Linked DNA regions of Homo sapiens: region 1 is reported to be linked to region 2. The links are microRNA targets in miRTarBase. Many come from high-throughput screens and were not tested one by one. Region 2 holds a microRNA gene; the other region holds the end of a gene's coding sequence.

What was found. Region 2 holds the annotated microRNA hsa-miR-942-3p (CACAUGGCCGAAACAGAGAAGU, at 2,053-2,074, opposite strand). A microRNA usually pairs through its seed, bases 2 to 8, with sites in the 3' UTR of a target mRNA and lowers its output. Matches are read on the target gene's strand: a 7mer-m8 pairs with bases 2 to 8, a 7mer-A1 pairs with bases 2 to 7 and ends in A, and an 8mer does both.
Region 1: the mRNA of DSTN is a reported target of hsa-miR-942-3p. Seed matches in the 3' UTR shown: 7mer-m8 at 861-867 and 8mer at 2,858-2,865.

The regions. Positions count from the first base shown.
Region 1 is chr20:17,606,578-17,610,636 of GRCh38, forward strand. DSTN (destrin, actin depolymerizing factor) reads left to right here. Exons shown (of 4, transcript NM_006870.4): 4 at 460-3,342. The coding sequence ends at 569. Among named protein-coding and RNA genes, the nearest start is that of DSTN, 39 kb to the left of the region's middle.
Region 2 is chr1:117,092,701-117,096,768 of GRCh38, reverse strand. MIR942 (microRNA 942) reads right to left here and starts at 2,126; the gene lies at 2,041-2,126. It overlaps TTF2 (transcription termination factor 2), which reads right to left. Exons shown (of 23, transcript NM_003594.4): 18 at 3,868-4,038; 19 at 1,402-1,460; 20 at 470-620.

The sequences.
Region 1 (4,059 bases), not on the chromosome of region 2:
AAAAGTGTATGTCACAAATTATTGTAGAATGTGTTGAATTTTTCAGAGTGAACATAATGGTTATTTCTTAATCTAATGACCAGCACCCCAGAAGCCTCCCTGGTGCTGTTCCCTTCAATTCATAGCACTTCTGCCTGCCCCTTCCTCCTCAAAGTAGCCAGCACCCTGGCTTCTAACAGCGTAAGTTAGCGTGGGCTGATTTTGTATGCTATACCTATATATATAATAGAATATATGCATTTTAAATCTGGATTCTTTCAGTGAATGCTGTTTGTGAGGCCCATCTATCTTGATGCATGTAGTTACAATTATTTTTTCTCGTTACTGTGTAGTATTCCGTGTTTGTATATACCCCAGTTTATCCAGATTAGAACTGGTCTTTTAAAAGTTTGGTTATCTTAGAGAAAGAGGTAAACTGCTGCCATAATTGTAAATAGAAGTGTTGTTTTTTCTCTCTAGGCATAAAACATGAATGTCAAGCAAATGGACCAGAAGATCTCAATCGGGCTTGTATTGCTGAAAAGTTAGGTGGATCCTTAATTGTAGCCTTTGAAGGATGCCCTGTGTAGATTATTCAGTGCCACAAATTGAAAGCTTCCATGTTTAATGTTATCCTCTTGCTATATAAATAAAGCAAATATATTTAGGCCAGGGTCTCACTGAGGGGGAGCTGTCTTGTCATCTTTTAGAGTAAACTATTCTATAAACATATGCAAACAGCCCTAAATAAATCTAAAGTCTAAAGTTTTATTGATGTGAAATTAAATTCTTATTGGCCAAATGCCTGTTTTGATGAGTTGATTTATAAAGATTTTTGTTAAGCTCAGGATTTTAAATTACACAGTTCACAAACAGTAAAGGCCATGTGAAGAGAATTATTACATCTTTATTAACCTCAGCATTTACTTTGTTTCTTTTGCTTAGGAAATTGCTCATAATCTGGTTATAATTTTGGTCCAAATTCTTTATTCTTCCTTGAGCTAAGCAGAATAATGGAATATAATATGTCTTCATAATATAACAACACTAATACACTAATAGTAAGATTAAGTTAGGCAGTCTTCTACCAAATGTGTAATGGAGATTGCCTCAAAATTGTGTCCACATAATCCACGCTCATCTTGCAAAGCGCTATTTCAGGCACATCATTGGAATACAGGAAGTAGCCCTGCACCTGCCAGTGAGCTCGCCATTCACTGATTGGAAGAGTGACCTGGCATCTTGGAAATCATTGTGTGTCTTCAGGAGAATGTGCAGTGTCTTGTAACAACTAATTATAATGCAAATTAGGGCTACATTGTAATCTGCTTTGTTAATGAAAATGATAAAACAGAATATTGACAAGCTAGGACACCTGTGGTATCTTTAATTGTATCTCCTTCAGAAGTTTGCTTCTTATGGTATAATAAAGTATGGAAGAATATTGAGTATATGTTTACTCTGGGCCTGGGAGAACTTAACTTTCTAGAGCAGTTTGTTGACTTGTGTGCAATGGGGAGAGGTACCATGATGACACTCACAGGGAGCCACTGTTCACTGACACTTGGAAGCGGTCATTGTTAATATCACGGGCGTAACACTTTGAACGATATAGAGATGCACAAACAGTTGAACTTAGAAGTAGCAGTATTGGCTTTATGTAATAAAGGAAGCATTTTTGACTTACCTCTCGTGTAATTTTCATGTGTGAATTGGGAATACAGGATTTTGCCTTCCATATGGGGTAAGGCATTGAGGTTTGGGTATTTCCAATAATTAAGAGTTAAGGTTGGCTGAGTGTGGTGGCTCACTCCTGTAATCCCAGCATTTTGGGAGGCCGAGGCAAGAGGATAGTTTGAGGCCAGGAGTTTGACAATCAGCGTGGGCAACATAGTGGGATCTCATCTACTAAAAATAAACAAAATTAGCCGGGTGTGGTGGTGCACGTCAGTAGTCCCAGCTACTTTGGATGCTGAGGTGGGAGGATCACTTGAGCCCAGGAGGTGAGCTGAGATCGTGCCACTGTACTCCAGCCTGGATGACAGAGCAAGACCTTGTCTCAAAAAAAAAAAAAAAAGTCACAACTCCCTCTGGTGAATAAGAAAGTTGGTGTAAAAGTTGGGAACGTTTTCAATGTTTATTACACTATAAGTGTAATAAATATTATACAAAATTATAAATTCACATTTAAAATTTAGAAAATAGAGAAAAGGGAAATTATACATTGTCCTACCACATGCCATCACATGGTTAGCATTTTGATACACAGCTGTGCATTATTACATGTCAAAGACTGCATATACTATGGTGGTCCCATACAATTATAATGTATTTTCTACTGTAATTAGATACACAAATACCATTGTGTTACAGTTGCCGACAGTATTCAGTATAGTAACGTGCTGTCCAGGTTTGTGGTCTAGGAGTAATAGGCTCTACCATACAGCCTAGGTGTGTAGTAGGCTATGCCACTAGGTTTAAGTGCAGTCTAGGGTGGGGAACATTTTAATGTTGATCCACATGCCAGGTGTTTGTGAGACAAGATTATGCTTTAATCAAAATATTTTGGAATTGTCTAGAAAATAGTGCTGGCTGCTTGTCATTCATCCTGAATTGCTTGTTTCTTTACTTTGTAGCAATGCTTTTAGTGTGGGTTTTGTTTTTTGAGACAGGGTCTCACTCTTTCCCCCAGGCTAGAGTGCAGTGGTGCAATCATAACTCACTGCATCCTTGAACTCTTGGGCTCCAGCAAGCCTCCTGCCTTGGCCTCCTAAAGTGCTGTGATTACAGGTGTGAGCCACTGTGTCCTGCTAGTGATTGTGATTAACAGGCCTCCAGGGAAGTGCCATAAGCCCAAGACTGCCGTACTCAAAAGTCAGCCATGTAGGTAAAGCAAGATATTTGGTCAAGGAGTTTTAGAAGGAGATTTTTCCTGTGGTGTTGGCTTAAGTGTGGCACTGTTGTGCGTGTGTGAGGTGTCTTCTGTGGGAAGGATTTCAAACAGTACAAAGGGATGTGATGTAAGCATCCAGAACTCACTCCAGAAATTGAATAAAATGCTAGTAGTTAGTCTCTAGGGGAACTTTTGAGAAAGTCTCAGTGGATTCCTGAGGCCCAAGAATTGTGCTAACAAGCACTCAAGGCGATTCTGGTACATAATTAGGGTTCAGACCTCAGCTGATTGGTCTACTGTTGGTCAGGAACAAAACTGCAAGTATACTCTGTTTCCAGAAAATACGTTTACCTCTTCACAAATGCTAACACACTGCAAAAATATGTTTGTGGAAAGCTGACTTAGTCTCATCTAGCGGTTACTCTCTTGCCCTGACAAAGCAGCAAATAAAGCCATTGCTAACAATTCAATCAGAGCTTGACTGTGAAGTTATCTCAGATAATATTACTCTGCAAAAACAGTGGACACAGTGACTTGGATAATAGGTTTGGTTTGGTGGTTTCCTTTCTGCAGAGTACCGGCTGCCGCAGGCACAGCAAGTGCAACTTGTTTCTTGACTATAATTGCCCTTCGGACCACCAGAGACTGAATATGCCCAACACGCATCACTTCTTCGTGATTTGGGGCATTTCTGAAATTGAGAACGGGCTCTAGACTGGGTTCCAGCTGGACTGCAGCTGGAAGGGACAGTAATGGCATTATGGCTGGTGAGGGGAGTATTCCAGGAGCCAGGGTTTCAGTGGAAGGCAGGCTTGAGTACCGTTTTGTTACTGAGGGCTCTCTGGGTTCTGCACAGTCCCAAAAGGGCACTGGGGAAGGGACTTATGGAGCCTCTGGCCAGTACCCTCAGTAACCAGCCCAGAGGTGAATTAACTTGCCTAAGGTTAATCGACTCACAAGTGGCAGAACTGGGACAAAAACTCAGATCTCTTGGTTTCTGTTCCTGAGCTATTTCCACCACCTCAGGAGAATTCACTTCATTCCTCTTATTATAATTGGATCATCTTTCCACATTTCTAACATCTGAAATTCAAAGGTTAGACCTTGTTCAGTGCTGGGGTGAGATTTGAAAGGGCCAAGAAGGAAAGCATTTCTTTTGCACTCTGAGCTCTCATCAGACCCAGCCC
Region 2 (4,068 bases):
TATCCCAATACATGTCTAATAAATTCTAAACACTCGGAGGAATCAAGGCTGTAAATATTTTTAAGTTGCCATATCAGAATTCTCTTTATATGGCTGGGCACGGTGGCTTACGCCTGTAACCCCAGCACTTTGGGAGGCCAAGGCAGGTGGATCACCTGAGGTCAGGAGTTCAAGACCAGCCTGGCCAACATGGTGAAACCTCATCTCTACTGAAAATACAAAAATTAGCCAAGCTTGGTGGCAGGAGCCTGTAATCCCAGCTACTTGAAAGGCTGAGGCAGGAGAATCGCTTGAACCCGGGAGGCGGAGGTTGCGGTGAGCCAAGATAGCACTATTGCAGTCCAGCCTGGGCAACAAGAGCAAAACTCCGTCTCAAAAAGACAAAAACAAAAACCAACCAAACAAAAAGAATTCTCTTTGTATAACTCAGAACAGTTAATTATGCGGCTCTGATGTGACCAGCTTGTACCTGAGGGCCTCTGGAGTGGTTAAATGCCTCTACCAAGTCCATTCTCTGCTTGGGATTGACAGAGCCATCGATGGTGGCATAAGTCAGTCCATGCTTCTTCAGGTGCAATGCTACAACTTTCAGCATGTTGGTCCACTGAGAGACAATGACACTGGAAAGAAGAATAAAATAAAAAAATACCCTAACATAGATTAAACAGACTCATCTGCAGGGCTTTAATGCCCTCATCATTCTTAAGGTTAGCTATCAAATGTTGACAAGGAAAGGCCTTCTGCTACCTAAGGGAGAAGGCACACATTTAGGTCATATCTGAAGATTATAATGCTTCCAGTTATTTCTAGGTCCTTTCTACAATTTATTTAGTGCTAAATGAAGTCAGAAAAAAATGGTAGCTAGAGTAAAGTGATGACTCCAGCCTTCTTTCATTTGGGGTCCTAGTGCTCATCCAGAAATCTGTGGTCCTGCACAAAAGGGACACACTGACCACCCTTCTTGTGCCAGCCAGAACAACAGGCTCCTCCCTGCCCCCACGCTGTCTTAATTCGAGTTCTAAATTTTTATATTGAATTATTTTATAAATAATGCAGGTGTATAGCACATATGTCAGGTATAACAAATGAGTCCTTGTATCCAAGTACTCAGCTTAAGAACGTTATCAGCACTGCTGGAGCCTCCTCACTCGCTTGCTTTTCTTTATATGCTTCTCTACTTTTAAACACTTTTTCAGATGCTTCGCTTACCCTGATCCTCTAGGGATCTCCTTTTCAATTTGTACCACAAATATTTTAATTAGAAATCACAGGGAATGTGTGCTATAACCTCAGTGCTTTCTGCTGAGCATGACTCACAGTCCTTGATTTATAACTCTTGGCAATATCAAATTTTCTCACATAATTATGACCAATACTTGGATAATGAGAAAACGCAGTTACCTCTTTTGGGATGCTGAATTTCTTTGAATTGCCTCCAATTCTGCCAACAGAGATGAAATCTGGGAAAAGGTTACATCAACATTGTATGTTTAAGCAATTCACTTTTCTCCATCTCCCCTCACCTGCCATGCGAAGCAGCCTCCTACATGGCGTCTGTGCTCTGGCCTCACCTGTCTTTATTCCACCCTCCTCTCTGCAGCCAGAAAGCTCTTTCTAAAATGTGAGTTTGTCACTTCACCCCTCTGGCTAAAGCCCTTCCATAGCTTCCCACTGAGGATAAAGGCCAAGCTCCTCAAGGCAGCTTGCCGGATTCTTGCTGCTCCAGCCTCTGCTTCTCTGGGTTCGTTTCTCACCATGCCCTCCTCAAACGACACAGCAAGCACACCAAAATTCTTCCCATAAATCACACACTGGCCATCTTGTCCATTCTGCTCCCTCTGCCTAGAACACCCTTTTGTGTCAGCTTAATGTCACTTCTTCTTGGAGGTCCTCCCAACCCCCAAAGTACAGGTTAGGTGCCCACTGCCCAAGTACTATCATAGCACCTTTTGTTTCTATTATCACGGTCCTTGTCATACTGTATATTAATTGCTTATTATCTCTTGCTTCCAGGACTTGAGACACTCCAAGGAGGCAAATATTAGGAAAGTAACTTCTCTGTTTCGGCCATGTGTGAGGGGCTGTGAGTACACACATGGCCAAAACAGAGAAGATACTCTCCTAATGTTTGCTGAAGAAGAAAGTGAAAGAGCTTTACCCACTTTATGGCCTGCTCCAAATGTTGTTGAAAAGGACCTGTCCAGACGGAGGAACCATTGTTAAAGCTTCCGAACAGGCTCCCTGGGTATTCCCCAAGAACCCTTAGGGTGCACTTGAGTCCACAGGGGAGCTGTCAGTAAGAACACGTGGGGCATGACTTTGGAGTGCAGCTGGGCTCATTCTTCCCAGCTGCTCATGTGAAAAACCTTTCAAGAGCCTCTAAGGGCCCCAGAGTTCACCCCCAGAATGCTGGAGAAGGAAGAAAACTGGGCTGTAAGTCAATCAGGAGACAAATATACAGAAGTTCTTCCTCTGTCCTCATATGGCTGGACCACTTTGGGACTCAGATTCCTCATCAGTGAAAAGAAGGACTTAGGCCAGATAAATTCTGAGGTGCCCTGAGCTCCCACATTCTAGGATGTCATTACAGTGGTCACCACATGGGGCTGCTTTCCAATCTTAACAAACATTCTGGTGCCTAGGCAGGAAGTGAGTCACAGAACTGTACCATTCAAATTAGCAGACAGAAAAGCAGCTACATCTGTTATTTAGTTAACAATAGAACAGAGACACTGATGTGCCTGGTGTCTTGGCAACTTGAGATTGTGGAAGGCGCTGTGACTCCCACATGAAAAAGCTAGCCATGGTGTTTTGAGAAAACTGCAGCAGGAGGGCTGGATTTATGGCCCACGAGCCGGGGTCAAATTCCAGTAAGAAGCCTCCTTCCCTACTTGAAACAACCGTATGTGGTTTGAACTATTAATGGACATATGTTAAGAAAACTTGTGAATAAATATTACCTGCATTTAATTAAACAAGGAACACAAATGATTAGGAATTTAAATTTTAGCCCAATAGCTCACTCTGAAGGCACTAGCATGTGTGTTCTGGCCACATGGGATGCTCTTCTTATGTTTCTCTCAGCTATCAGTGGTAAAGACCTAGGTAAATGTTTTCAAATTTTAATTAAAAGGCAGCATTCCTTTTAAAAAATAATGCCATTCCCCTGGAAGTGACCTTTCTAGTTATTAATACACTTTTTCAAAAAAAGCCTTTGAAGAGAGGTTGAGCCCAAGAACGGCAGCTTGAGATGCTAAGAGAGAAACAAGCCTCACTTTCAAGACAGGCAGGATGATGAAGCACATTCCGAGCCAGCAGACAGGCAGGATTCAGGTTACGGCATATCTAAGCCTTCCTCCAGCAGAATGTTTCTGCCTTAAAAAGCTCTGACGAAAACAGAGCAGAATGACTAATGAAGACAGAAGGCTATGTAGGAAACACTACTCACATGTGGAAGCCTTTCAAAGTCAGAGCAATTGGCGCTCGCATGTATGACACAGTCTCTAGAGTCAAGCCTTTGTTTTCCTTTTAAGCTTTCTCTAAACAAATTGCTCACTTGCATAGGCCCCGTCCCTAGCACAAACCTGGCAAGCTCCCCAGTGACCCATGACAGAAAACCCACTTCAGTGCAATGCTGGGGTTGTCCCAAATTACTCTCTCAAAGTCCCCTATGTAGTAAGGCTTTAGTGTTATCTGTGAAATAAATGAAGCTTTAAGACTGGAGGGAGAATCTGATCAGCTAGAATTTAACGGCTCTAGCTCTGCTGGCAAATGGCTGTTCCCACTTGGACAAATGAAGTGCTGTCACACAGGAAAATGTGTGAGGAATCGAAGTCTCTCGACTACTACAGAGGAGACAAAAAGTACCTTGGTGCTCTCTCGCATGCCTTCAAAAAGCTCCATCTTGAAGAAGGTGCCGTTAAGGGAAACAGTGGAAGATGGCTCTGAGTCACGGAGTTCTGACAAGGTCAAAGCACTGAGCTGTTCTTCCAGGGAAAGGACAAGACCTTCACCCTTCAGTTCCATTGGATCCAGGGCCTGAACAGACAAAAAAGGACAGGAGCAGCT